Linked DNA regions of Homo sapiens. The protein of the gene in region 3 interacts with the protein of the main gene of each other region in a pairwise test. Each region holds a gene or a part of one and is shown on either strand. Other genes may lie near its edges.

Region 1 (7,358 bases), on a different chromosome or scaffold from region 3:
TGGCGTGCTCTTGGCTCACTGCAACCTCCACCTCCCAGGTTCCAGTGATTCTCCTGTATCAGCCTCCCAAGTAGCTGGGATTACAGGTGCCTGTCATCATGCATGGCTAATTTTTTGTATTTTTATTAAAGACAGGGTTTCACCATGTTGGCCAGGCTGGTCTCAAACTCCTGACCTCAGGTGATCCACCTGTATCGGTCTCCCAAAGTGCTGGGATTCCAGGCGTGAGCCACCGCGCCCTGCTGTGTTTTTAAAGTGAGGTGTTTTCTTATTACTCAGTTTTAAGAGTCCTTTGTGTATTTTGGATACCAGTCCTTTATCAGATATGTATTTTGCAAAGATTTTCTCCCAGCCTGTGGCTTGTCTTTTCATTGCCTTAACATTGTCTTTGCAGACCAGAAGGTTTTAACTTTAATGAAGGCCAACTTGGCAATCATTTCTTTCATAGATAATGCTTTTGCTGTTGTATCTAAAAAGCCATTGGTAGATTTCCTCCTATGTTATCTTCTAAGCATTTTATAGGTTTGTGTTTTACATTTAGGCCTATGATCTGTTTTGAGTTAATTGCTGTGTAAGATGTTAAAGTCTGTGTCTAGATTTATTTTTTGCATGTGGCGGTCCAGGTCCAGTTGTTCCAGGACCATTTGTTGAGGAGACTATCTTGTCTCCATTGACTTGTCTTAGCCACTCTGGATCAGCTATTTGTGTGGGTCTAGGCTACTGTTTGGGTTTCGATGTTTGTGCCCTCCAGACCTCATGTTGAAATTTGATCCCCAATGTTGAAGGTGGAACCTAATGGGAGGTATTTGGTTCACGGGTGTGGATCCTTCATGAAATGTCCTTCCTGGGGGTAGGTGGGACGGGGAGATGAATTTTCACTCTATTAGATGACTCTGGAGCTGGTTATTTAAAGGAACCGGGCCCTTCTCTCCTCTCCCTCTTGCTTATACTCTTGTCATGTGATCTCTGCACACACGCACACTCCCTTTCATCTTTTGCCATGAGTGGAAGCAGCCTGAAGCCCTCTCCACATGCAGATGTCCAATCTTGAACTTTCCAGCCATTAGAATTGTGAGCCAAATAAACCATTTTTTCTTTATAAATTACCCAGACTCGAGTATTCCATTATAGCAATACAAAACAAACTAAGTCTATTTCTGAGCTCTATATTCTGTTCATCTTTATACACATTTTTCATCCTTACCATGAAGTTCGTATGTATCCAGCAGGTAGTAAAATTCTTATTTCGAAAATGAGGAAACTGAGGCACAGAGTGAGCAGGGCCCCTCTCCCCAGGCCAGCAGCTGGTTAGAATTGAAACCCACATCTGCCTGGCTTTGATTCTGTGCACTTTCCTTGCCCCCAAGGTGCCTAATGGTGCTAGAAAGAGACTTAGTATGTCAACCTTAACCTTAGATGTTGCTCTCTAGGGCCTAAATTGTAGCATCTCCCTTTCTTAATGGTTGCTGGAATCTTGGGCAGCTGCTCTTTGATTGTAATCAAGGCTGCCTGTCACTCACGGTTTCTCTGAACCTGTAATGTGAGTCTTGACCTGCCTAAAAACTGGCTTTGCTTAAAACATGTAGCCCTCTTTATCAGCATCCTCTAATGTTTTGCTGAGATCTTGTGCGTAACTATTTTTTCCCTGGTTCATACTGAATCCTTTTTGCTGAGAAGTCACTTGCTCATGGGGCTTGTCTTATTGTCTTTTTGAAGACAGGACCTTGCTGAGTGGGATTGCTAAACGGAGCACAGTGCTAAAAATCTCCTGGGTTAAATGTCACCATACTCCCATCAGGGCCTGGAGCACTTGCTCTCAGAATTTACAAACATTAACTCATGTTGGCGCTCTGTGTTGCCCAAGGAGAGCATCTCTACAATTTATGAAATTCTATTTTACTGCCAGAAGTCAGCAAAGAGAAAAAGAAAGAAAGAGAGGCAGAAAGAGAAAATTCCACAGTCATATTTCAAACACCAAGGGATAGATTTTTTTCTTAAGAATATAAGATTTACAAGCTCCAAACAGGAGTGAAATAGTTTGCAGAAGCTCTCACAGCAAATGAACTGGTAGAGTTCAGATTCAAATCCTGATCTGGTGCCAAGGGCAAAGCAGGTGGTCTTTAATCCTACCAGGCTTCTCTCTGTGAGAAGGGGACATGCTTACTGTGGCCTCAGCAGACAGAGTAGGCTGCGTGGGATCTGGGAGATCTTCTGTGAATGGAAGGCATCATTTCACCACTGTGCAATTGAACTAAGATACATTGTTTTATTTATTTTTTATTGATTTTTATTATTATTTTTTTGAGACGGAGTCTCGCTCTGTCACCAGGCTGGGGCGCAGTGGTGCGATCTTGGCTCACTGCAACCGCCGCCTCCTGGGTTCAAGTGATTCTCCTGCCTCAGCCTCCCGAGTAGTTGGGACTACAGGCGTGCGCTACCACGCCCAGATCATTTTTGTATTTTCAGTAGAGACGGGGTTTCACCATGTTGGCCAGGATGGTGTCAATCTGCTGACCTCATGATCTGCCTGCCTTGCCCTCCCAAAGTGCTGGATTACAGGCGTGAGCCACCGTGACAGGCCAGATTTGTTGCTTTAAAACAAAGCATATATGGTGGCTTACTATGATGTCAAGCACTGTTCAAAGCACATTACAAAGCTGGGCAGGATGGTGCTCGCCTATATTTCCAGCTACTGGGGAAGCTAAAGTGAGGCGATCGCTTGAGCCTAGGAGTTCAAGGCTGCAGTGAGCTATGATGTTGCCACTGCACTCCAACTTGGTGACAGAGTGAGACCCACTCTCTAAAACAAAGACAAAAACACATTTTACAACTGCTAAGCCATCTGCATGTGTTCATTAAAACTTTTTCTGGGGACTTTTTCTGGCTCATCCCTGTAGTCCCGATGCTAGGGGAGGTTGAGGCAAAATGATCGCTAGACAGCTGGTATTTGAGGCCAGCCTATGCAACATATCAAAAACCCGTGTCTATATGTAGAAAAAATATTAACTAGGCGTGATGACACAAGCCTGTAGTTCCATCTGCTTGGGAGGCTGAGGCAGGAGGATGGCTTGAGCCTGGGAATTTGAAGTTCCAGTGAGCTATGATTGTACCGCTGCATTCCAGCCTGGGTGACAGAGTGAGACCCCTGTCTCTAAAAAACAAACAAATGACAACAGCAACAACAACAGAACACTTTTTCTGAAGCTAGCACCATGCAGTTATGTACTTTATAAATTGCTAGTCTAATTCCAAGGGAATAGTTCAGCAGCTGATATTTGAGAAGGACCTGTAGAAAGGATTCAAAGACCACGGACACCGTCCACTGTTTTTCTGTTTTCCTATAAGATAGAAGAAGGATGGCATTATTAATTTATGCCCTGTTTACCTATCCCAAGTCCCAGATCACTGGATCTTTAAAGATTATGATTCTCGCTTGGCTTTTGGTACAAAAGGAGACAAGGAGGGAGCTTAAAAGGTGAGCACGGTGTGATTCAGGACTGAAGCTTCTGCCACTTCCTGGGGGGTAACTGCAAAAGTGAGCCGTTCTGACTAGCCGTTTGTGCATTTGCCACTGCCAAGGGGGCACAGGTAGATTCAAGCTTTGGGGCTCTTCTGACAACTGGCAAGGATAAGGTATTAGCAAGGGCAAAGGAATAGTAATAAAATAATCCAATAACAAAGACATGAAGATTTATAATAATTTTTAGGCCGGTGCAGTGTTTCAGGACTGTAATCCTAGGGCGCTTTGGGAGGCCCAGGCGGGAGGATCGCTTGAGGCCAGGATTTCGAGGTTAAGGTGAACTGCGCTCCAGCCTGGGCAATAGAGTAACACCCTGTCTCTAAAATGAAAAGAAAACAGTTTAAACCTTTTAAGTGCATACCAAATCTTTTATTTTGGAGAAGGAAAACTGGTCTCGAGTTCCGTGTGAGCTCCCTGGGGCCCGCCGGGAGGGGGTTGGCACGGCCGGACCTGCAGCACTAGTTCTGGCCAGGGCGCTGTGGGATCTGCAGGGGACCACAGGATGCTGTGGCGCGGTGCGCTCAGATTGGCGGAGAAACGGCCACACGCCTACGGAGCTACTGAGAAGGCGAGCGGAGGCGCAGCCCGCCCGCCCGCCGCGGGAACCCCAGGTTGGGGCGCTGGGCGCGCGAAGACTCAGCCGCCCCGCCCACCAAGGGCGCGTCGGTCCCCGGCCGCAGCCTCTGGGCTGGCAGCCGCCGCCGCGCCGCGCTCCCATTGGTGCCCGGCGGTGACGCGGCCGAGCGGGCCGGGGCTGCCTGGTCCGGGGGCGGGCGTGGGGCGCGGGGCGCGGAGCGCGAGGGGCGGGGGCCGGGCGCACTGCTGATGAAACCTGGCGCCGGAACCCGCCAGCCCTCGGCGCCCATTCAGTCCGCGCAGGCAGGTGTGAGCAGCGGGTCAACTACCTGGCAGGCGCGCACGCGGCCGCGGGCTCCCGCTAACCGCAGCCTCCACTCCTCTCCCCGCGCGCCGCGCCCCCGCCCCGCCCCGCCCCGCCCGGTCTCGCCGGCCGAGCGTCCGTTGGTCCTTGAGCGCGTCCGACAGTCTGTCTGTTCGCGATCCTGCCGGAGCCCCGCCGCCGCCGGCTTGGTGAGTGCCCGGCCCCGCCAACGCAGGGGGCAGCTCCTTGGGCCCGGGTCATCACGGAGGGGGCCCTGGCGCCGCGTGGGGCCGCGGCAGGGCGGCGCGGGAGTGGCGAGGGCCCCCGCGCCGGGAACGCTGCCATCCTCTGGGAAGGGCCAGGACCAGGGCCGGGCGGGCCCCGGAGTGGGCGAGCGGGGCTGGTGCCCATGCGACTGTCGCCTCCACGGAGTCCATTTTGGCTCCCTGAAACCGCGGCGTGGTGCATGATGCAACACCGAGTGAGTAAGCGTGGGCGATCTGGCGATGCCCGCTCCGCGCGCCTGTCCGGGGACCCGCGCGCCGCTACGCACGGGGTGGTCGGGGTGCGTAGGCGGGCGGCGGGCACGGGGGCCAGACTGGGAGGCACACGGAGCCCGCCGGCGGCGAGGAGACCTTCCCTTACATGGCGCGGTGCAGAGCACCCCGCCCCGCCACGAGGTCCGGGGATGTGTCATCAGCCGTGGGTGGGGACTCTGCCCGGCCGCCCGGAGGGTGGTCCCGCGGCAGGTGGCCGGCCCAGGGACTCTGCTGCCATCCCCGCCCGGTGGCCGCCCTGACCTAGGGCGCCTGGCTCTCCGCTTGTCCCTAGAACCCGGGACGCGCCGCCTGCACCTCTCGTCTGGGTCCCCAAGATTGCTTTGAGGAAGTCTCCCCTAGGTGGGCTTCCTTGTGACCCAGTGTGGCCTGGAAAGGCCGGGTTCCTCAAGCCCTCCACATGGTTTGGAATGAGAGGAAGTTCTTCCGCCTTTAGCAAGACACCGTATTCTCAGGGTGTTCCTTTCTGCGTAGTAGAAAACTTCCCAGGCATGGGCAGGTCAGAGTCATTCTAAAACCTGCGCGTACACAGAGCGGCAGCTGCACTGTAGTACTACAACAGCCTGCTGGTTCAGCTCCTGACCCTTTCCAGGGGATGGGGGAACCAGACAGCAGTTGTGTTTGACTTGTGTGACTAGGATAGTCAGACATGTGCCTTCAGGAAAAAAATAAATAAATAACCTACATTTCCCAATACTCACGTCATCACCGCCATGCCCTCATGTGTTGGGTTTTAGTCCAGACATAGTTACCAGATGGTTGAGATTTCAATCCCAGGTGTATCTCCCTAAAGAATGTGCCTTTTATCTTACTTACATTCGACTAGTAGAATTGTGTATGTCGGCCTCTGGCCGAATGCCCTAATTGTATTTAATTCGAATTATAATTTATCTGGGATTTTTCCTAACATTTCTTGCCCTTTATGTTTGGTTCAGATAATAGGAAACCATGATACATTTATTCCTCTGGTATTTTTAGTTGATCTCAGTGGAAATTACCATGATTTTTATATGAACACACCCTCCTGTTATTAAAACAAAAGGTCTTATTTAAGTCACACGAACAGAATAGAAACTTAGGGGAAAGGTCAACAATAGATTAAAATGGTTTTAAAAATAGGTTTAGCATATTACGATCATGTTTAATTATTATAAAGGTAAAATTCAAAGGATGTCAAAGGAGTTTTGAGTAAAGAGGAAAGGGCTTAGTAAGTAGATCAGAAATGTACTCCCTTGTCTGGGTCTGGATCCTAGAGCCACGTGCTCCTGTACATATGATTACTTGCTTTAGGTGAAAAAAAAAAAGAAAGGCTTGAAAGACAAGACTGTTGACTTCAGGGAGTTACAATTTTCTATTTGGTAGAAGAACTCATTCTTTGATGGAATTAAATACGTGTTGATTGATTATTCTGGTCTGTAGTTTATTTTAACCAAAGTCCATACAAATAGATAATTATGTTGGAGGGCTCAGAATTATGTCCAATTAAATTAATCCTTTCTCATTATCAACCATGTATTTGGAGGGATTGCTATTAATCCTAGGGACAAATTTGAAATGTGAATAAGTGCATCCTTGTTATGGAGAAAAATATTGTTTCCCTCTAACCTTGGAGATACTTGAGTCTCGGAGTTATCTCTTCCAGAGGCATCTTCAGAGATGCCTATCACTCCACCTGCCTCTTGGTCCTCACTCCAAGCAAGACCTTCCGATAGGATGTGGTGTTTTTCTGTATAGTTGGCCCCTGCAGACCTGGATAGATTTTAAAGGCAGATCCAATAGGATTGGCCGGTGGATTCATGGAAGGACGAGAAAGGTCAAATATGACTCCAAGCACATCGGAGTTGCTGTATTAATGAGATGGGAAGGCTGAGCAAAGAACGTGTTGGATGGAAGAGGGACTTTTTGAAAGTCACAACTGACCTTTTTAGAACTCTTATCCCCAGGGTCAGGGCTGGAAGATGTATCTTCTTGGGGCCCCTCTCAGGTGCCTGCCTGTGTGTTGCAGCCACCCGTCCAGGCTGCTGGCCTCCTTCCCCTTCACCTAGCTTTACTGGCTCCTCTCGCCAAATCTGGGGGGTCTCTTCAGCCTCTGTCTCCTTGCTGCCCATGGCCTCCCTTTGCTCCCCTGCCGCCTTCTAGTGGGCCGCCTGGTGGTGGACTTGTCCTGTGGGATGGAGACCCTCCATACATGGGGTTCAAAGGTCCTGGGGTATTCCTGGATCTTCAGGACATCTGCCTACCCTCAGGTTTCCCAGGCCTCGGGTGGGGAGGCATCAGATCCCTGGCCAACCTGCTATCCACCCCAGGGTTTAGACCTCTCTTCCCGTGAGGGAACAGAGTAGTAGCTTCATTTGTGGCAGATTATCTGCCTTGTGATAAACTTTAGTGGCCTCCCTTTCTG
Region 2 (7,433 bases), on a different chromosome or scaffold from region 3:
CACACCTGTAATCCTAGCACTTTGGGAGGCCGAGGCAGGGGGATCACAAGGTCGGGAGATCGAGACCATCCTGGCTAACACAGTGAAACCCCATCTCTACTAAAAATACAAAAATTAGCCGGGCGTGGTGGCACACGCCTATAGTCTCAGCTACTCGGGAGGCTGGGGCAGGAGAATCGCTTGAACCTGGGAGGCAGAGGTTGCAATGAGCTGAGATCACATAATTGCACTCCAGCCTAGGCAACAGAGCAAGACTCTGTCTCAAAAAAAAAAAAAAAAAAAAAAAAAAAAGAAAGAAAGAATTCAGAGACTCACTGTCATGAGTTCAAGGGGCTGAAGCCCAGGACTGGGCTGGAGGGCACTTACTGAGTGACCCTGGGGAAATCATGACTTTTTTCTTTTCCTTTTCCTTTTTTTTTTTTTTTTTTGAGACAGAGTTTCGCTTTTGTTGCCCAGGCTGAAGTGCAATGGCGCGATCTCAGATCACTACAACCTCTGCCTCCCAGGTTCAAGCGATTCTCCTGCCTCAGCCTCCTGAGTAGCTGGGACTACAGGCATGTGCCACCCTGCCCAACTAATTTTGTATTTTTAGTAGAGACGGGGTTTCTCTATGTTGGTCAGGCTGATCTCGAACTTCCGACCTCAGGTGATCTGCCCACCTGGGCCTCCCAAAGTGCTGGGATGCTGGGATTACCGGCATAAGCCACCATACACTGCTTTTTCCTTTTTAAAAGACAGGGCTTGTTCTGTCACCCAGGCTGAAGTACAGTGATACCATCAGAGCTCACTGCAGCCTTGAACTCCTGGGCTCAAGCAATCCTCCTGCCTATGTCTCAGGAATAACTGGGGTTACAGGCACCCACCACCATGCCCAGACAGGAGTCTCCCTAGTTGCCCAGGCTGGCCTCAAACTCCTGGCTTCAAGAGATCCTCCCACCTCAACCTCCTAAAGTGCTAGGGTTACAGATATGAGCCACCAAGCCTAGCAGAAATCATGATTTATTTATTTATTTATTTATTTGAGACAGAGTCTCACTCTGTTGCCCAAGCTGGAGTGCAGTGATGCGATCTTGGCTCACTGCAACCTCCACCTCCCGAGTTCAAATGATTCTCCTGCCTCAGCCACCTGAGTAGCTGGGATTACAGGCATGCACCACCATGGCCCGGCTATTTTTTTTGTATTTTTTGTAGAGATGGGGTTTTGCCATGTTGGCCAGGCTGGTCTTGAACTCCTGGCTTCAAGAGTTCCGCCCACCTTGGCCTCCCAAAGTGCTGGGATTACAGGCGCAAGCCACCACCCCTGGTCAGAAATCATGATTTTCTATCTTAGTGTTTCTAGATGAAAGCATGGGAACCATCACCCCTTTCTACTTTCCACTAGTTTGCCAGCTAGGGATGAAAGCGCTTTGGAACTTGTAGGGCGTAAATCAGCTGTTTTATCATAAGAAAGTATTTCTCCAGGCTGGACACGGTGGCTCATGCCTGTAATCCCAGCACTTTGGGAGGCCAAGGAGGGTGGAACCCTTAAGGCCAGAAGTTCAAGACTTTTTTGGGACAGGGTCTCACTCTGTCCCCCAGGCTGGAGTGCAGTGGCATGATCTCGGCTCACTGCAACCTCTGCCTCCTGAGTTCAAGAGATTCTCCTGCCTCAGCCTCCCAAGTAGCTGGGATTACAGGTGTGTGCCACTATCGCCCAGCTTTTTGTATTTTTAGTAGTGATGGGGTTTCACCATGTTGGCCAGGCTGGTCTGGAACTCCTGACTTCAAATAATCCACCCACATTGGCCTCCCAAAGTGCTCGGATTACAGGCGTAAGCCACCATGCCTGGCCAAAAGAAAGTATTTCTCCAGATGTAATCCCAAACCCTCCTACCCTACCTCTAAGCTTTAGTATAAAAAAAAAAAAAAACCAACAGGCCGGGCGCGGATCCCCTAAGGTTGGGAGTTCGAGACCAGCCTGACCAACGTGGAGAAACCCTGTCTCTAAAAAATACAAAATTAGCTGGGGGTGGTGGCGCATGCCTGTAATCCCAGCTACTTGGGAGGCTGAGACAGGAGAATCGCTTGAACCCGGGAGCCGGAGGTTGCAGTGAGCTGAGATCACGCCATTGCACTCCAGCCTGGGCAACAAGAGTGAAACTCCGTCTCAAATAAAAAAAAAAAAAGACTGATCTGCTGCGCAAGTAGGTGAACTAGTATAATTGCAGAAACTATGTGAGCTTGGAACTGGAAAGATTGGGTCCTGCTTCTAACTGCCTTTTACTATGTAACTCTAAACATGTTACCTAACCTTTCCAACTCTGGTTAGTACCTACTGTATGGATTGTTGTCAGTCAGATGAGATAATTCACCTACAGCAGTTGGACTAAACCTTCTTAAAACTCCTTAGGTACATAATAACTGATAAGTGTTATTATGTTAATATGGGCCAGTACTTTTGATAGTAATTTACATAACTTATTCATTTATTCATAGACTATTTATGGAATATTTATGATTAATACTTATCAATGACTGCTTTAAGTATAGGGAATACAGGTGAACAAAACAGATAAAAATCTGTAGGGAAAGAGATAGTAAATATTTACTTATTTACTTAGAGACGAAGTCTTGCTCTGTCCCCTAGGCTGGAGTGCAGTGGTGTAATCTTGGCTCACTGCAGCCTCCGCTTCCCAGGTTCAAGCAATTCTCGTACCTCAGCCTCCTGAGTAGGTGGGATTACAAGCGCGCACCACCAGGCCCAGCTAATTTTTTTGTTTATTTGTTTTGAGACGGAGTCTTGCTCTGTTGCCCAGGCTGGAGTGCAGTGGTGCAATCTCGGCTTACCGCAACCTCTGCCTCCCAGGTTGAAGCAATTCTCCTGCCTCAGCCTCCAAAGTAGCTGGGATTACAGGTGCACACCACCATGCCCAGCAAATTTTTTTGTAATTTTAGTAGAGACGGGGTTTCGCCATATTGGCCAGGCTAGTCTTGAACTCCTGACCTCATGATACGCCCGCCTCGGCCTCCCAAAGTGCTGGGATTACAGGTGTGAGCCACCGCGCCCAGCAATTTTTTGTATTATTAGTAGGCATGGGGTTTCGACATGTTGGCCAGACTGGTCTTAAATTCCTGGCCTCAAGTGATTCACCCACCTTGGCCTCTCAAAGTGTTGAGATTACAGGTGTGAGCCACCACACCTGGCCAAGATAGTAAATAAATAAACAAGGAAAATACATAGTGTACTGCAGAGTAAAAGCAGCAGAGAGAATAGAAAATTGGAAGGAAAGTAGGTAGATTACTGTGCTGGAGGTGGTGGTGTTGCTATTTTAAACAGGAGGGCCATGGAAGGCCCCTCTGATCAGGTGACATTTTTTAAAATTTTATTTTATTTTTTATTTTTTTGTGAGACAGAGTCTCGCTCTGTCACCCAGACTGGAGTGCAGTGGCGTGATCTTGGCTCACTGCAACCTCTGCCTCCCTGGTTCAAGCGATTCTCCTGCCTCAGCCTCCCGAGTAGGTGGGATTACAGGTGCCCACCACCATGCCTGGCTAATTTTTATATTTTTTTACTAGCGACGGGGTTTCACCATGTTGGCCAGGCTGATCTTGAACTCCTGACCTCAACTGATCGGCCTGCCTCAGCCTCCTAAACTGCTGGGATTACAGGAATGAGCCACCAGGCCCAGCCAAGATCAGGTGACATTTGAACAGAGAACTGGAGGAGGTGGGGGGGGGAACCACGTGGATATCTTGGAGAAGAACTGTACAGGGAACAGTGTGCAAAAGCCCTGGTGGTAGCCAACATAGATGGGAGGGAGAGGAGCAGGGGATGAAGTCAGAGGAGTGGCAGAGGGTCAGAGGACAGAGGGTCTTGTAGGCCATTATAAATACTTCGGCTTTTACCCTTAGTGAGATGGGAAGTCATTGGAGGCTCTTGAGGAGATGATACGGAAGCTGTAGAGAGGTTAAATAGTTTTTCCAAGGTAAAACAGCTTGTAAGTGGCAGAAGGTAGGGAATTAAGCTCCAAGGCTGAAGTTCTTAACCCCATGCTGCCACTGAACTTTAGCCTTCTTTATTTGGGCATTGCTATCCTGTGACTTCAAAGAAACTGGGACACTGGGAAGTTATGCGGCTTGCCCAAGGCCACACAGCTGGTAAGTGACAGGGGCAGGACTGCGCCTTAGTCTGTCTGCAGCCCGACTCCAAGTTCTTTACACCACACCGCCTCCCTCAGGTGTCTGGACCATACTGGCTTCTCTTGCATGGAGGTCACTGCAGTGGGAGAGGAGGCAAACCAAGGAGACCTTCTCGGCTTCGGGCAGCGGTGCTGTTCCTTAGGAAGCTCCAACCCTTGGCTCTACCGGACTGCGGGCATCTTTCCCGAGCACTGCACGGAAGAAAAGAAAATTGGCACTTATTTCAGGGTGGCCCCTCAGGCATCCAAGAGCCAGAGGAGCAGGTGTCACGGGATGGCAGCGAGCGAGGCCAGGCCAGGAGAAGCAACCGCAGCCTCCTATGGTCGCCCCTTCCCGACCCACCCCAGGCGTCAGGAGTTCCGCGCCCGGGTAAGGGAAGGAGGGCGGGCGGGCGGGGCGGGGCGGGGTTTTGGCGCCGCGCCCCCGTCACGTGATGAAGCCATCATGGCGGCGGCCAGAGGCCTGCCCGGCTCCCGGAAGCAGGCTGTGAGGGGCGGGAGCGCTGCTGGAACCCGAGCCGGAGCCGGAGCCACAGCGGGGAGGGTGGCCTGGCGGCCTGGAGCCGGACGTGTCCGGGGCGTCCCCGCAGACCGGGGCAGCAGGTGAGGCGGAGTCTGGGCGAGGTGCAAGTGGATGTGGCAGGGCTGGGCAGGGGCTAGGGGGCGCAGTGGGGTGCCAGTGACCTGGAGGAGTGGGCCTCTGAGATGCACACGCATGACCCTGAAGCAACTCGAGAGGCCTGCGCGGGTGGGAGGGATGCCCGGGACAGAGGATGAGACACTGAGGGCAAAAAGAGGCTCCGCAGCGAGGACGGGAGGTAATAGAAGGAAGTGTACGGGAGCTGCTGTGGGAAAGGGCAGTAGAATTTGCGGGAGCGGGATTATTGAAAGGGACTCCCTCTTCACAGGCAAGGATGGGTTGAGTGCCCAGTCCTCTCCCCTGTCTTCTTACCCCTCCCTGCCCCACAGTGTCCTAGGAGACAGCTTTGGCGTGGCCACTCCTCCCACCCACCCAACTGGTCCCTCCGGTCTGAGATCTTGGGGAGTGGAGTTGGCAGCGGGGTTGGGTGGAGCTGCCATCTGCTTAAGACAGCCCCTTGACCGTGCTGCCCGAAGGATGGATATGGCTCTGACTCCCACCTCTCTTCCCAGGTCGTCCGGGGGCCCACCATGCTGGTGACTGCCTACCTTGCTTTTGTAGGCCTCCTGGCCTCCTGCCTGGGGCTGGAACTGTCAAGATGCCGGGCTAAACCCCCTGGAAGGGCCTGCAGCAATCCCTCCTTCCTTCGGTTTCAACTGGACTTCTATCAGGTCTACTTCCTGGCCCTGGCAGCTGATTGGCTTCAGGCCCCCTACCTCTATAAACTCTACCAGCATTACTACTTCCTGGAAGGTCAAATTGCCATCCTCTATGTCTGTGGCCTTGCCTCTACAGTCCTCTTTGGCCTAGTGGCCTCCTCCCTTGTGGATTGGCTGGGTCGCAAGAATTCTTGTGTCCTCTTCTCCCTGACTTACTCACTATGCTGCTTAACCAAACTCTCTCAAGACTACTTTGTGCTGCTAGTGGGGCGAGCACTTGGTGGGCTGTCCACAGCCCTGCTCTTCTCAGCCTTCGAGGCCTGGTATATCCATGAGCACGTGGAACGGCATGACTTCCCTGCTGAGTGGATCCCAGCTACCTTTGCTCGAGCTGCCTTCTGGAACCATGTGCTGGCTGTAGTGGCAGGTGTGGCAGCTGAGGCTGTAGCCAGCTGGATAGGGCTGGGGCCTGTAGCGCCCTTTGTGGCTGCCATCCCTCTCCTGGCTCTGGCAGGGGCCTTGGCCCTTCGAAACTGGGGGGAGAACTATGACCGGCAGCGTGCCTTCTCAAGGACCTGTGCTGGAGGCCTGCGCTGCCTCCTGTCGGACCGCCGCGTGCTGCTGTTGGGCACCATACAAGCTCTATTTGAGAGTGTCATCTTCATCTTTGTCTTCCTCTGGACACCTGTGCTGGACCCACACGGGGCCCCTCTGGGCATTATCTTCTCCAGCTTCATGGCAGCCAGCCTGCTTGGCTCTTCCCTGTACCGTATCGCCACCTCCAAGAGGTACCACCTTCAGCCCATGCACCTGCTGTCCCTTGCTGTGCTCATCGTCGTCTTCTCTCTCTTCATGTTGACTTTCTCTACCAGCCCAGGCCAGGAGAGTCCGGTGGAGTCCTTCATAGCCTTTCTACTTATTGAGTTGGCTTGTGGATTATACTTTCCCAGCATGAGCTTCCTACGGAGAAAGGTGATCCCTGAGACAGAGCAGGCTGGTGTACTCAACTGGTTCCGGGTACCTCTGCACTCACTGGCTTGCCTAGGGCTCCTTGTCCTCCATGACAGTGATCGAAAAACAGGCACTCGGAATATGTTCAGCATTTGCTCTGCTGTCATGGTGATGGCTCTGCTGGCAGTGGTGGGACTCTTCACCGTGGTAAGGCATGATGCTGAGCTGCGGGTACCTTCACCTACTGAGGAGCCCTATGCCCCTGAGCTGTAACCCCACTCCAGGACAAGATAGCTGGGACAGACTCTTGAATTCCAGCTATCCGGGATTGTACAGATCTCTCTGTGACTGACTTTGTGACTGTCCTGTGGTTTCTCCTGCCATTGCTTTGTGTTTGGGAGGACATGATGGGGGTGATGGACTGGAAAGAAGGTGCCAAAAGTTCCCTCTGTGTTACTCCCATTTAGAAAATAAACACTTTTAAATGATCATTGATTTGATTTACTCATCCTTACCTGTAGCCTTATCAGTAGTTTCTGGTGAGTGGGCAGCTAGAGGTTTTTTTTTTAGTTTTTTTTTGTTTTGTTTTGTTTGTTTTTGTTTTGAGACGGAGTCTTGCTCTGTCGCCCAGGCTGGAGTGCAATGGCGCGATCTTGGCTCACTGCAACCTCCGCCTCCCGGATTCAAGCAATTCTCCTGCTTCAGCCTCCCAAGTAGCTGGGATTACATGTGCCTGCTACCATGCCCAGCTAATTTTTGTATTTTTAATAGAGATGGGGTTTCATGTTGACCAGGCTGGTCTCGAACTCCTCACTTCAGGTGATCCACCCACCTCGGCCTCCCAAAGTGTTGGGATTACAGGCATGAGCCACCACGCCCAGCCCAGCTAGAGGTTTTGAGGTGGGATTATCAGCAAAAGTTTTCTGTTTCTAACTTCTCCAAGGCTGTCTCCAGTTCAAACTGAGAACTATGGAATTGCTCTCAGCAGAGCTGTGTGGGAAGGGC
Region 3 (6,948 bases):
ATTCTGGGGTACTGGGGCTTAGAACTTCAGTATACGAATTTTAAGGAGGCACAAGGTGTCCGTGACAGTGCTGTGTTAAGTGACTGGAAGGATGAATTTCCTTTTTCACTTGCACTTTCTTTCTTGAAGTTTTGTTTGAAGCTGCTTGAAGACATCTCTGCATCCTGTCTTATGTGGATGCTACTCCCACTGCAGAGATTATTCGAGAGGTTGGAAAGGTTGGAAAAGAAAGAGAGGATGCTTTTGAAGGGAGAAGGGTAAGAGTACAGACAAGGGAAGCTGTATTAGTCTGTCTGTTCCCACACTGCCAATAGAGACATGCCTGAGACTAGGTAATTTATAAAGAAAAAGAGGTTTAATGGACTCACAGTTCCACATAACTGGGGAGGCCTCACAATCACGGCGGAAGGCAAGGAGGAGCAAAGTCACAGCAGGCAAGAACATTTGCAGGGGAACTCCCCTTTATAAAACCATCAGATCTCATAAAACTTATTCACTGTCACGAGAACGGCACAGGAAAGACCCACCCCCATGATTCAGTTACCTCTCACCTGATCCCTCCCATGACATACGAGAATTATGGGAGCTACAATTCAAGATGAGATTCAGGTGGAGAGACAGCCAGACTGTATCAGAAGCTTTGCCAAGAAGACCCGGAGAGTAGCAGGAACTCTCCTCTGTTCTTTGGCATTACCCTGTGAAGGCTGTGTGGCTCACCTGGGGACTGTGCCTCTGGCAGGAAAGTCTTGTGCTGTCTGCTCCTGAGAGAAGGCATGGCTTCTGGAATGAGATGATCAGTAGCACAGATGGGCTGAAGATGAGACGTTACATTCCACATTCCCAGAACCATAATATCCCCCAGATTCCTCTGTGTCCTTAAGGAGAGAAAGTCAGAATGAGAACTGACATTTGATTTCCTGCTACTCTAGAGAAACAAGAAATGGAATTTGTTAATTTTTAAAATAAAAAAAGTGAATTTTCTATATTTATGGAATGTGTGATTACAAATTCACATAAACTTCCTTGTCTAATTTTTTTTCTTTTCTTTTTCTTTTTCTTTCTTTTTTTTTTTTTTTGAGACTGAGTTTCGCTCTTGTTGCCAGGCTGCAGTGCAGTGGTGCGATCTCGGCTCACCGCAACCTCTGCCTCTGGGGTTCAAGCGATTCTCCTGCCTTAGCCTCCCGAGTAGCTGGGATTATAGGCATGTGCCACCACGCCTGGCTAATTTTGTATTTTTAACAGAGACAGGGGTTTCTCCATGTTGGTCAGGCTGGTCTTGAACTCCCAACCTCAGGTGATCTGCCTGCCTCGGCCTCCCAAAGTGCTGGGATTACAGGCATGAGCCACCACACCCAGCCCCTTGTCTAATTTTTTAAAAAAAATTCAAGTGTGGGTCTTGAGCTTCCCTTGATTTTCTGTCTAGAAGAGAAGTGTCAGAACGGCTATCTGCTTTCCCAGCTTCTGGGCCATTTGCTGCAGCACTGAGTCGCCAGCCTGCTTCGCATGAGCAGGGAAATTTTGCCCATCTAGGTAATCAGGAAGAGCTTGTTCAATGAGTGAAGGGTGAGTCATACTGCATTGGCACAAACTCTTGGCAACAATGAGTGTCCTTTACAATGGGCTCTATGGGACAGCCCTCTGGGGGAGATGGGCCAGCCAGACCTGAGTAAGGGGCTGGACTGAAAACTGACAGTGACAGGTGGAAGTGAACTTGAGAGACCCAACAAACTTCTTGTTGGAGAGAACTAGGACAGCTGCTCAGAGGCAAAGCTCAGAGTAGAGGATTTCACTCAGTATTTATTGAGCACTTATTATGTTCAAGGCCCTAAGAGGGAATATGTAGAAAAATGCTGTTCTCTAGAATCGTAAGATCTAAGCATCAGAAAGTGAATGCCACAAACATTAAGTGTGGCAGATGCCATGATCAACACAGACAAAGACTAAGTATTACACCAGCTCAGAGATCAGAGATCTAGGGATGGGGAACTCCATGATAGGCCGGGAAGTCTTTGCAGGGAAATCTGCATCTGAGTGCCTTTTGAGGCCTGCTGCAAACAAAACTTTCAATGCCAGTGTCCCCTCTCACTATCTCCCCAACAATGGTTGCATTCACAAAGACAGAGCAGGGGAATGAAGTCACATGTATTACCACATGAGCAATTACAAGTCTCAGTTGGGTCAGGGCATTTTTGCACCTTAACTCTCTTCCTGCAGCCCCAGATGCTCCTTTGCAGTCCCCCAGCTTGAGTGTTATACGTCTGTGTTCCATGAGAATGCCTGCATCTTAATACAGACCCCTTTATTGTGGGGAACACAGCACAACGTCTGTGCATTTGCAGTCACCCACCTGTGCATCCCCTGAATCCTTCATTCATAAGTAGTACTCAACCAGGAACTTCTTTGGTATCCCAGCTCGGACACGGGAGGTGTGAATATATTTTTCATAAAGCCCAGGCCTTTATGCAGAACGATTTTCATCCTCTAGTGAGAGGCTGAAGTAACAAAGTGCTGTTGTTAAGATTCTTCCCATTGTGCATTTTTCTTGAATAATGACATTTCTAAAAAGAATCTGAAACTGAGGCATTAGAAGGCAAGTGCTCGTTCATATATTTGAAGAGGTCAAATATTTACCAGAATAACTTCTCAATACAGAGGGGACAGCTTTATTTTATTTTACTATAAAGATGTATGTGTAGCAGAAGACAAATTATGCAGAGCTTTGAGTTAGTTAAGAATCATCTGATTTAATTCTTTGGAGAAATGAGACAAATTGTAGCTAAGGACTATGGAGTTGTTTTAGTTTGCCAGTTATATTTAATTTGACTATTTCTTTATTTATTGAGAGACAAAGTCTCACTCTGCTGCCCAGGCTGGAGTGCAGTGATGCAAACACAGCTCACTTCAGCCTTGACCTCCTGGGCTCAAGCAGTCCTCCTGCCTTGGCCTCCCAAAGTGCTGGGCTTACAGGTGTAAGCCATGGCACTTGGCCTATTTGACTTGTTTAATCCCTCCGAAGAACTCATACATACTATTGCCACCTCATTTTCCACGTAAGAAAATGGAAGCACGAAGACCTTAATAACTTGCTTAATGGCTAGTAGGTGGTAGAGCTTGAATTTAGACCACACAGTGTGGAGGGTATGCTATTAAGGAAAAACGATGTTCTAGTGGGGTTTCCATTTAATATTGCAGAAAAAAGAATCTATATATTTAAGAAGGTGTTATTTCATGCACACTCGTAGGTTTTGTTCATATATGCACATCTGACGTATAATTTAACATTTGTGTAACTTCAAGCTTCTATGGGGAGTGGCAGAAGATGCAGGAATTCTATTAATACCTTCGCAGATCTTAGATTCCAACAAGCTGGATACCTTAAGAAAAATAAAGAAATTGCTGTGCTTGGATCCCAGATGTCCATTCCACCTTTTGGGACCTCCCGGGGGGCCCTCTTTTCTTCATCCTTCAAGACAAGGATAGTGGGGTGAACAGACAGACTTTCCTTGCGAGGGTTGGCTCAGGAAGGCTCTGGGCTCATCTCACAGCCGCCCCAGCGAGGGTCGGGGAGGCAGGTGCTGGCTCCGGTGGGGTCTGCGGCAGAGCAGGACTGGAGCCCAGGGCGCAGCTGCACAGCTCAACGCCGGTTCGCGCCCTGGTTTACAGCGTTGGGCTGGGTCACCCCTTCTTTCCTAGCTTGCTGCTGTGTGTTCCCTCGGTGTAGGAATCAGGGGAGTGTCTTCTGGAGGCCACTAAAGCAGGAATAGCATTTTCATGTTAGCGTGCACGGGCGGTCTCCGCAGCCCCTCCTCGTGCCGGAGCCTGTCCTGGGGCCTGCGGGGCGGCTCCGGGCCTCGGGCCGGCGCAGGCGGGCGGCAGGGGGCGCTGTGCGGCTCGGCGCGGGGGCGGGGCCGGGGCCGAGCCTCCCGCGTGCCCGGCCTCTGTGCGCGCTCGCGCCCCGCCCGCGCAGCCGCTTCTCCCCGCGCGGGCTCTCGGCAGGCGGGAGGCGGCAGGGCTGGCATTGCAGTGCGGGCCGTGCGGGCTGCGCGGGCGCGGGGAGGCGCGGGCGGCAAACTGCGGGCACCCGGCACCCCGCAGCCAGTACCGGGCGGAGGCGTCAGAGCCGCGCACCGCGGACGAGCAGGCCCAGGTAGAGTGACGCGCGTCCCCTTTGTGTCCGCATCGCCCGGGCCGGCCGCGGAGCGGGGAGGGCGGGACGCGGCGCTGCGCGGCCGGCCTTGGGGCTCGGGGCTTGCGGCCGCGCCTGCCCCGCTGGGTCCTGCCCCGGCGCCCGGTGGCAGCGGGCGGGGGGCAGCGTCCCGGGCGGGGACTCGCGGGCTCCGTTCAGAGGACGCCCGCCCTGCCCTGCCCGTGTCCCTGACCTCGTCCCTGCTCTGCTCCTGCCCTGCCCTGCCTCTCGCAGGCGGCGCCCGCGCCCCAGGGCAGTGGGCGCTTAGGGACCTGGCGTCCCCCTGCCTGCCCTGCGCGGTCGCGGGTCTGCGCTGCGGCGCGGGACAGGGCGCCCCGGGCCAGGGTCCCGCGGGCGAGCTGGCGGCGGGGGCTTTCAAGGTTCGCGGCCCCGCCCGCAGACCCTGGGGCTGGAGCCTCGGCCCCAAGAGGAGGTCTGGGAAAGGACGACGCGTCCGGGGCATCGCCACCGGCGGGGAAGGTCGGAACTGGCCAAGAGGATGCCCCGCACATCCCCTGCGCGCGGGGTCCGCGGCTGCTACTGCCCCTGGTCCCCACCGCGAGCCCTTTCCCGGGGAATGAGCCGCCGCCCGAGCCCCGGAGTTCCCTGCGGGTCTTACCCACCCCAGCCTCCGGCCGCCGACCCCAAGCCCCCTGCACTGTGCTTGGCTCCCAGCTGTTTGGTCGCTTATGCCATCCTGGAGGCTTCCTGGTCCTGGGGTGAAGGGGTGACTTCTTTACCCTAATGGTCTTCGTAGGCAGGTCTCAGGATGTCCACTCCAAAGTTCGTGGTCTTTTTTCTAGAGAATAATAATTTTTAAAATCCATTGAACTGGCCGGGCGCGGTGGCTCACGCCTGTAATCCCAGCACTTTGGGAGGCTGAGGCGGGCGGATCACGAGGTCAGGAGATCGAGACCACGGTGAAACCCCCTCTCTACTAAAAATACAAAAAATTAGCCGGGCGCAGTGGCGGGCGCCTGTAGTCCCAGCTACTCGGGAGGCTGAGGCAGGAGAATGGCGTGAACCCGGAAGGCGGAGCTTGCAGTGAGCGGAGATCGCGCCACAGCACTCCCGCCTGGGCGACAGAACGAGACTCCGTCTCAAAAAAAAAAAAAAAAAAAAAAAAAAATCCATTGAACAAACATCCTGCGCTGCCTCCTGCAGGATCAAGGCTGGGGTAACAGAGGAGTGAGGTAAGGCCCCAGGGAACTATCCCCAGTGGATCCCTGCTGCCCTGCGGTGAGAGGGGGTCTAGCTCCTGCACTAAGAGCCTGGGAAGAAAACACTTCCCGTAATGGGGCCTGGGAGATGGAAGGAGGACATGCCCCAGTGAATGGGGCTGGGGTTGAGAGTTGAGCCTGGCAGATAAGATGGATTTGTAAATGAAATGCCAGGTAGAAAGTAAGTTGGTGTAGACGCCTGTGGAGCTGTGGGAGCCCCCAGGAGGGAAGGGAGGGAGTCAGGGTGTCCCTGCAAAGGGAGTCCCCTTTGCAAGGGAGGGGGTGTCTGAGTCAAAGCTTGCAGGTGGGGCAGGTCAGAGGTGGCAGGAAGGGCCTCTGTCCAGAGAGAGCTGCTCCAGCGCAGGAAGGGGGAGGGACAAGGTGTGTGACACCGTGAACTTTCCCAGGGGATTCACCCAGTGGCTCCAAAGGAGACAACAGCCTTTTTTATTGTATTCTCTTCTCCGGTACTGAGATTAGGGAACCTTGTTTTTTGCACTTTTCTAATGCCTTTTACATTTTTGTTTTTATTTTTAAAGCGTGCAAAGGAAATGTGACTAGAGGGGTCAGAAGAGGATAAATCATGAAATCTTTGAATTCTAGGCCAAGACTTTGGGTTTGACTCTGTGTCAGTGGGAGCCATTGATGGTTTTGGAGGAGGAGGGTGATCTGAGCCCTGCTTTAGAGTGATTTCCGCGGTGTTGCGTGGAAGGGAAGGCATGGTGTGGTGTGCCTTACTGTGGCTTCCGAGTCAGACCCCCACTGGCTGTGGGCTTCCACCTGCATCAGGCATCAAAGGCTGTGGATGGATTGAGGACCTCATGAGAAAATGGGTGCAAATAACCCAATTTTAATGGGATGGAAATTTTCCAGACCCAGTGCAATTTGATTTTTGCAGTTTGTGTTTTTAAAGAGCTCCCGATTCTAATGTCAGCAACTCTGGAAGAGGAACTAATGAAGGGCAAACTCAAATGCACGATGCAGGCACCCCCAGGTCATCTGTGCCATGAGGATTTGGGAAACTCAAAGAGCATTGTAAAATGCATATATTTTATAAATAGATTCCAGTGCCCTCAGCTTGCTAGTTGGTAATCCCTGTATCCAGACTGTTGCTAGAGTAAGTCACGTCTCCTGGGGATTCAGTGTGGTTTGGGACTTTGAAGGGACCTCACACTGTTTGGCTGAAGCTGCTGAGGTTCAGGGGTAGAAGTGCCACTCTGGCAGGCGGCGGCAGGGTTGGGAGCTACAAGCTACGTTGCCTGCCTCTGAGAACATTCTTTCCCCTGTGGTCCACCACGTGGCCCCACTGCCTACTTTTGTTCACATTTCTCCCTCCTGGAAGCCTTTCCCTCTGGGGGTAGAGATGGGAAGGAAGCCTGCCCTTGGAGACTGACAATCACAGAACCAGGTGGGCCAGCACCCACCTGGCCTATGAACCCTTGTTGTAACCATGGGAACCTCGTAGCTTGGAAAGGAGGGGTCAGGTAGCCCAGGCCACATGAAAAGCTGTGGCTGGTCCAGCCCTGGCATCAGCTTTTCTGG
Region 4 (7,022 bases), on a different chromosome or scaffold from region 3:
ACAGGCATGAGCCACTGCGCCCAGCTAAGTATTGGGATTACAGGCATGAGCCACTGTACCCAGCCCTACAATCTCTTTTGATCCTTTTAATCAACCCTATGTGATAGGTAAACTCATTTGACCGAGGAAATTGAGGCTTATAACAATTAGAAGATAACAGATAGAAGAGCTAAATGGTGAATTGTATTTTTAGTAGAGACGGCATTTCACCATGTTAGTCAGGCAGGTCTCGAACTCCTGACCTCAGTTGATCCACCCGCCTCGGCCTCCCAAAGTGCTGGGATTACAGGCATGAGCCACCATGCCCAGCCATATCTGCATGTTTCTAAGGAGCAGCTACAGAGCTGTCATCAGACTCAAAAGACCACCTTTGACTCCATAACGGTTAAGATGGTGATTTCTTGGCTTTGGAGACCTTGCTGCTCTGTGATACTTTAGGTACAGTGTTACACAATGTCCCTTTTTGGTCATAGCTGTCCCCAGAGATTTTCAGACCACAGTAGTCCATTGATATGCTTAGATCAAATCTTCCAAATTGCAACTCTTCACAGATAACTCTGAGGGTGCTTGACACAGAAGTGATTTTCATTTGCTGCTGGGATGCAGAAGGGAGTCATTCAGTGAATGAGGTTTGCACTCTTCCCAGCATCCCCATTTAGCAACCCTGTTTAATTACAGTCTTCTTGTTCTCTGTGTCTCATGGGAGAAGTTCTTTGCTTAGATGGTTTTCTTGAATTGACAGATTGGAAAGTCTCAGGAAATGTCCCTTTCAAGCGGCAATAATTGGACACTCTCTCCCTTCCCCCCATGTTACATTACGTTATCTTATTTTTGCAGCATCATTTAAAAGGTATTTCAACTTCTCCCTGGAAAGAGACAAGTATTCAATAAAGAAATACATTTTCTATGTTCTAATTGAGAAAACTGAAGTTCAGAACGATATAAATGTCATTATTGAAATTCCTAGATATTATGAGGCAGAGGAGAAAAGAGAAATTAGTCCCCATGATTTCTGGTGAGTCTGCTATACCCTTAAGGCTCCCACTTGCTAAGCGTATGCTATTTCTAAACAGGCTGGGGTGGGGGAGTGTGGCCAGGGCCCGGCAAGGTGAACCACTAACTAGAATTCTCTTTCTGCTTCCTCAAGGGCTTGACTTTGTAGAAACTCAGTGAGTCTATTGGGGCCTCTTGGTTGTTATTAATAAATTAGGGAGCCTTCCAAGTGCCTTCCTGGGTTCTTTGACTACTGCACGGGAGTGCTGAGAGATCCCATGGAATGAAATTTCAGGAGAAATGCAGACAGGTTGGGCGTCTTAGAGGAGAGTCTCCATGAAAAAGCTGCTGTATGTCATTACATCACATTAGGAAGAACAGCCACATTGTTCTCATTTCAGCTAAGTAAACACTTCTAACGTCATTTATTCTTACGTATTTTTCCTCTTTTTCTATAGGTGTTGTTTCGGTTGATCACCTTTGTCTTGAATGCATTTATTCTTCGCTTCCTGTCAAAGGAAATCGTTGGCGTAGTAAATGTAAGGTAGGAGGAGATGCACCCTGGCACTGTCAGAGTTCACCTTCCTAGCCAGGCTTTCTTCAAACTCTGTACCTGTTTGTCATCCTTGGATTCTAGAAGCATGGACCTTTATCAGAAGCAGAATGTCTTAGCAGTAGGCTGAGGAGAAGCGTGCAGGAGTGGAGGGACGCGCAGGCGATGTTGCTTTTAATGGACTCATGGAGTGTTTTCCATTAGCAGCCTCCAAATGCACATTTCTTTGCCAGCTGTTCTGGTTTTCCTGCTCTTGGAAGTCAGGAAGGAGAAGAGTGGGAGTAATTCATTAAAAACTCTCTCTCAGATATAATCCTATGTTCTTGTCCTGCTGACAGCAAAGGAAACAGAAATTCAGTAGTTTGTGAGGATGCGCTTCATAATGGCAGGGCTGGAGCAGCCACCTTCCTTCCCTCCTCAGTGATTTTATAATTGGGATATGGCAACTGGGATTCGAGCTTGAGTCTTTGTCATCAGTTTCTTGGAGGCTCTTGGAAAGATGACTTCTTTGTCTTTTAGACTCAGCTTGTTTCTTCTACTCGCCTCCTTTCTGTTCAAGGACACCCACGCATATTTTGTCTTCACAAATGACACAAAGTATATGAAATGATGTGAGTGCTCAGAATAGCTCAGCTTCTCAGGTGTGTCTTCATGTCCTGATAAATAAGACAATATGTTCCAGACAGCATTTCATGTCTAATACTTACCAAACATATACTCTTGGCTCTGGTCTCAGAGCTTAGTGGCAGGACTCAAGCTTTGAGCAAAGGAATCATCTGTGGAGTTTTGCACTACATAGTGCTGAACAGGGGCCCAGGAATCTGAATTTTTATAAGCTCCTTAGGTGATTTTGAAACAGGGACCATTCTTTGAGAAATATGTTTTCTTTTCCTCTTCTTCACCTTCTTCTTCTTTTTCTTTTTTTGAGACGACAGGCTTTTGCCCTATCACCCAGGCTGGTGTTCAGTGGCGCCATCATGGCTCACTGCAGCCTTGACCTCTTGGGCTCAAGCGATGCTCCCGTATGAGCCTCCTGAGCAGCTGGGCCTACAGGTGTGCACCGCCACACCTGAATAATTTTTTTATTTTTTGTAGAGATGAGGTCTTACTGTGTTGCCCAGGCTGGTCTCGAACTCCTGGGCTCAAGTGATCCTCCCATCTTAGTCTCCCAAAGTGCTGGGATTGTAGGCATGAGCCTGAGAAATATAGGCACTTGGCCCTAAGAAATACTGTTTTAAAAGCAGGAAGGAAGAGGGGCAAATCCTCCTAGGGGCTCAGATTTTTCTCCCCAGGCAGCCTTCCTGAGATTGGCAGGTCCTGCTTTGACAGCCCTTGTCTGGCCTGCCCTGCTCCCCTGCTTAAGGTTTGGTTCCATCTCCTTATTTGCAGTGTTCCACAGAGGCACTGGGTAGCAGGATAATCCTTGGACAACCCCAGAGACCTTAACCCTGGGCTGTCCCTACTCTGGCTTCACCCAGACGGCTGTCTATTGAGGAGGGGAGATCTCAGCTACTCCTCGCTAAGATGCAGGAAGGCTCACCCAGGTGCTGCCCACCTGGGAGGTACCCAGGCACGCCTTGCTGATCTGGGTTGCAGCAGCCTCTGTAATGGTTGCCAGCCTTGTTGCCTGTCTTGAGATTCTTTTGGCCAGAGCCTCCACTCGGTAGAGGCTCAGCTTTTCTCACAGGGGCCATCGGTCACTCGTGTCAGTGTGACCAAGAAGGGTGGGGTTATAATCTTATCTTCTTCTCCTCCTTATGGTCATGGCCACACCTCTGCCTGTAGCCATGAAGGCTGAAGCCTTTTGAGGCCACTGCAGCAGTTTCTATCCTTCACGTAACTGTAGGCACACACCCTCAGGTGTCTTTCATTTGGTTCCTAACTCATTAGTTCTCATGGATCAGACCGGTAGGGGGTCCTGTAAGAGCCCACTGCCTTCCACATCACCACCAGTGGTTTATGACCAAGACTTTATCTCCTCCCTGTTGCTGGAAAAATCCCAGAAGTTCTCTCTATGAAAAAACTTGAGACCTTATTGATTTCTCCCTTTCATTTACAGACTAACGCTGCTTTACTCAACCACCCTCTTCCTGGCCAGAGAGGCCTTCCGCAGAGCATGTCTCAGTGGGGGCACCCAGCGAGACTGGAGCCAGACCCTCAACCTGCTGTGGCTAACGTGAGTTGTGCTTTGGCAGGAGACACGTTTCAGGAAGGCAGGTGTAGTGAGCATTGGAAATGAAACAGTAACACGTGCCTAAAGCTGAATTGCCCCCAGATTCAGTTTCGTCATGGGTTTCTGGGAGCAGGCATACAACAAGACGGGGACAGTGTTTGTGTCAAAGGAACTTCTTGGCTCATTTTCTCTCTGGATATCCAGGAGCCAGGAAGAGGTTCTGGGTTGGGGTTTCTGGGCCAGGTTTCTAGCCCTGGTTTCATCCTCTTTGGAGGTGGTTTCTTGCTGTTTCTGACCACCACTGTGGGCTCCACTTGGCCTGTGCCATCTTTTTTATTCCTAATCTTTTTGCTCTATAATATCTTTTGAGCTTTTAACAGCCACTTAGATTTAGTATTTCTTGAAAGCCTTTTATGGGTTTTATTACATTTTTCTTCAGTTTTGTTATGTGACTTCAGTTCTGAGTCTTTTAGGATATTCTTGAAGATCAAATACATTAGCTTAAAATTGCAATGGCTTTTCTCCAGCTAGGTCCCCACAGGGAGGGCTGGGGTTTGAGGTTATTTCCCAGTGCTGCCCTTGCATAACTCCTTATTGCCTCACAGAAATGACTGTCATGAGGGCTGGTAGGTGTTCATTTTATTAGAGGAACAACTGTTAACCACCCAGTCATATTTAAGTGCCCCATGGTACACATGTGAAACATGCGAAAGGATACTGAGCACTGCTCTGTTGGTTATTTGGGATGCAAGGAACAGCTGTATACAGTCTGTCAGTCATTCTAACAACAGGCATTTTCTTTCTGGGAATTTTGCTTATGGGGTCAGTATGTGTAACCCAGTGGATAGAAGTTTAGGCTTTGGAGTTATTGCAGGATTGGGTCTTGCTTCTGCCCTTGATTAGCTGTTCATGACCTTGGCCAAATTGCCCAGTGCCTGTCAGCCTCAGTTTCATTTTTTTAATGGAGATAATGACAGAGGATCATTGTGAGGTGTCAGTGAGATAAGCGGCGTGAATCATAGTGCCTGGCATGTAGTTAGTATCTTATAAATAAATGGTAGCTGTTTGTATTATAACTATTTTTTTCTGTTCAGTGTTACTATTTTAATATATATTTATATTTATTTTAAAATTTAGTGAATTATTTTTTTCTCCTCTTCTAGAGTCCCCCTGGGTGTGTTTTGGTCCTTATTCCTGGGCTGGATCTGGTTGCAGCTGCTTGAAGTGCCTGATCCTAATGTTGTCCCTCACTATGCAACTGGAGTGGTGCTGTTTGGTCTCTCGGCAGTGGTGGAGCTTCTAGGAGAGCCCTTTTGGGTCTTGGCACAAGCACATATGTTTGTGAAGCTCAAGGTCAGTGCACCTTCTGCTGTGAATGGGAAATGGGAAGAATAAGAAAAAGCGTTGTTTTTTAAAAATGCTTTTATAGGAGAGAATGAATGATTTTTCCAGACTTGCACCTAAAAATGTATTTAGAAAAAGATAACATGGTCAGTTAAGTTCTTACACTTGAAATTTGTCAGATGGGCTAGGCTAAAGTTCACCTCTGTTTCACCATAAATAAAAAACAGATTTGCTAATAATTTATTAGTTCAAGTCAGAATTTAGAAGGACCGTAAAGGTTTTTCAGATTTTTCTAGTGGTTATATTTAGTTGTATACTAACATTAACTTTTCTCTCTTCATCTTTTATAATAGATTACAAAAGAATATATATTTAATGTAAATCTTAAAGCATAATATACTGAAAGATCCATGAACCCACCACCCTACCCAAGAAGTAAAACGTTACTGATACTTATGTCCAGCTGTGTGCCCTGCCCCCACAGCCAGGGTGACCACTGCCCTAGATTTTCTGTCTATCATTCCATTACATCTTGACTTTTTGATGATGTTTGTAAACTGCACCTTAACCACATGTTTGCAGGTGATTGCAGAGAGCCTGTCGGTAATTCTTAAGAGCGTTCTGACAGCTTTTCTCGTGCTGTGGTTGCCTCACTGGGGATTGTACATTTTCTCTTTGGCCCAGGTAAGAATCATGGCTTTTAACTTTTTATATGATCTTTGTTTCTCCAACTGGTTTTTCTTCTTGTTCCCACCGCCGTGTGGTCTGCATTCACAGTACCCATGCCTGTGCAGGAGGTGGAAGCACCAGAAGGGTGGCCTTAGCACTGCTTCTCTAGCTGCCAGGTCCATTGTGTTCCATACACTGAGACCGTAGGTGTTTCTAGGGACCTGGTGAGGGCCACACACTGGACTTCATTGTCAAACATCAAAAACCCCTTTTAGACATTCAGTGGGCAAGCCTGTTTCAAACTGATCTTTGGTCATCTGATAGTCTTGTAAAGGAGAAAAAAATCAGTGGGGGGTGGGGTGGGAATCAAATTGTATATGTATTATTTTCCCTGGATTTCCATCTTTTTTTTGCAGAATAGGTGGAAACTCTGCCAAGCCTGTTTTAAACTTAGTTTGAAATCTCACATAATTCAGAGGGCATGAATCAAGTCAGAGTAGGTATGTGTTCAGTTTTAGCAATTTAGGCTTCATTTCCATCTCATTGTTTCCTAGTTCTAGTTCATATTTCTGGTTCTAATAAAAATACAACTAGAGTACAAGTGCTATTTTTAAAAATGAAATTTAAGATCAGATAGTTACCAGAACATTTTACAGTGCAAAGCAGTTGTAGTTTTCATTAATGTTTAGGAAGATAAATTAAGATTCTTAGTAATGATTTATGTAAAGGGTACTTCTCACAGAGGACACTGGCATCAGGTGGGTGGCTCACAGCAGTGCCGCTGGAGCTTTAAGGGCTTGGAGCATGAAGAAAGAAGGCTGGTGGATGATGGGCTTTGTCTCAGGCATGGTTGGGAGTGGAGAGCAGAGGGGCCCACACCTACTAAAGTGAGACTCTTCTTTTTCCTTGCCCTGTGCCTTTACTACAGGAGCAGCCTTGATATTGCCAGGTTGAAAGCAAGTCTAGAGGTGCCAGTCTTTCTTGAACCAGTGTGCACTGCTGTTCTCAGGAGGGAAAGAGGGTCGAAGGGAGCTTGTGAAAAGGGGCTTTTTTGGACTTTCCTCCTCAATCTGCAGACAAAACCCATCTGGCTGCTCCTGGCCAGAAGCCATTCTTTTGTCCTGGATGGGTGGAGGGAGGGGTGGGCCCTCTTATCACCCTACCCTTTCTTCCCCTATCTGTAGTAGCTCTTGCCCTGGCGAAGAGGAGAGAGCCAGCAGCTCAATTGTGCTTTGTAATCATTAATGGCACAGGTTTCCGGGGTTTATAGAAAACCCACAGTCCTTGATG

What was found.
Region 1: the proteins of RNF144A (region 3) and SLC7A1 interact in binary tests that used the Homo sapiens proteins (3 or more experiments, as listed by UniProt).
Region 2: the proteins of RNF144A (region 3) and SLC61A1 interact in binary tests that used the Homo sapiens proteins (3 or more experiments, as listed by UniProt).
Region 4: the proteins of RNF144A (region 3) and RFT1 interact in binary tests that used the Homo sapiens proteins (3 or more experiments, as listed by UniProt).

Annotation. Positions count from the first base shown.
Region 1 is NC_000013.11:29,592,667-29,600,024, reverse strand, and holds the start of SLC7A1 (high affinity cationic amino acid transporter 1), read left to right. Parts: upstream 1-4,336; 5' UTR 4,337-4,609; exon of another isoform or gene 4,610-4,881; intron 4,882-7,358. UniProt on the Homo sapiens protein: High-affinity, low capacity permease involved in the transport of the cationic amino acids (arginine, lysine and ornithine) in non-hepatic tissues.
Region 2 is NC_000012.12:53,247,488-53,254,920, forward strand, and holds SLC61A1 (molybdate-anion transporter), read left to right. Parts: upstream 1-4,607; 5' UTR 4,608-4,781; intron 4,782-4,900; exon of another isoform or gene 4,901-4,996; intron 4,997-5,330; coding exon of another isoform or gene 5,331-5,348; coding exon 5,349-6,701; 3' UTR 6,702-6,919; downstream 6,920-7,433. UniProt on the Homo sapiens protein: Mediates high-affinity intracellular uptake of the rare oligo-element molybdenum.
Region 3 is NC_000002.12:6,913,476-6,920,423, forward strand, and holds the start of RNF144A (E3 ubiquitin-protein ligase RNF144A), read left to right. Parts: upstream 1-3,936; 5' UTR 3,937-4,147; intron 4,148-4,926; exon of another isoform or gene 4,927-5,207; intron 5,208-5,318; exon of another isoform or gene 5,319-5,379; intron 5,380-6,948. UniProt on the Homo sapiens protein: E3 ubiquitin-protein ligase which accepts ubiquitin from E2 ubiquitin-conjugating enzymes UBE2L3 and UBE2L6 in the form of a thioester and then directly transfers the ubiquitin to targeted substrates.
Region 4 is NC_000003.12:53,120,424-53,127,445, reverse strand, and holds part of RFT1 (man(5)GlcNAc(2)-PP-dolichol translocation protein RFT1), read left to right. Parts: intron 1-1,451; coding exon 1,452-1,537; intron 1,538-3,605; coding exon 3,606-3,722; intron 3,723-4,882; coding exon 4,883-5,072; intron 5,073-5,645; coding exon 5,646-5,747; intron 5,748-7,022.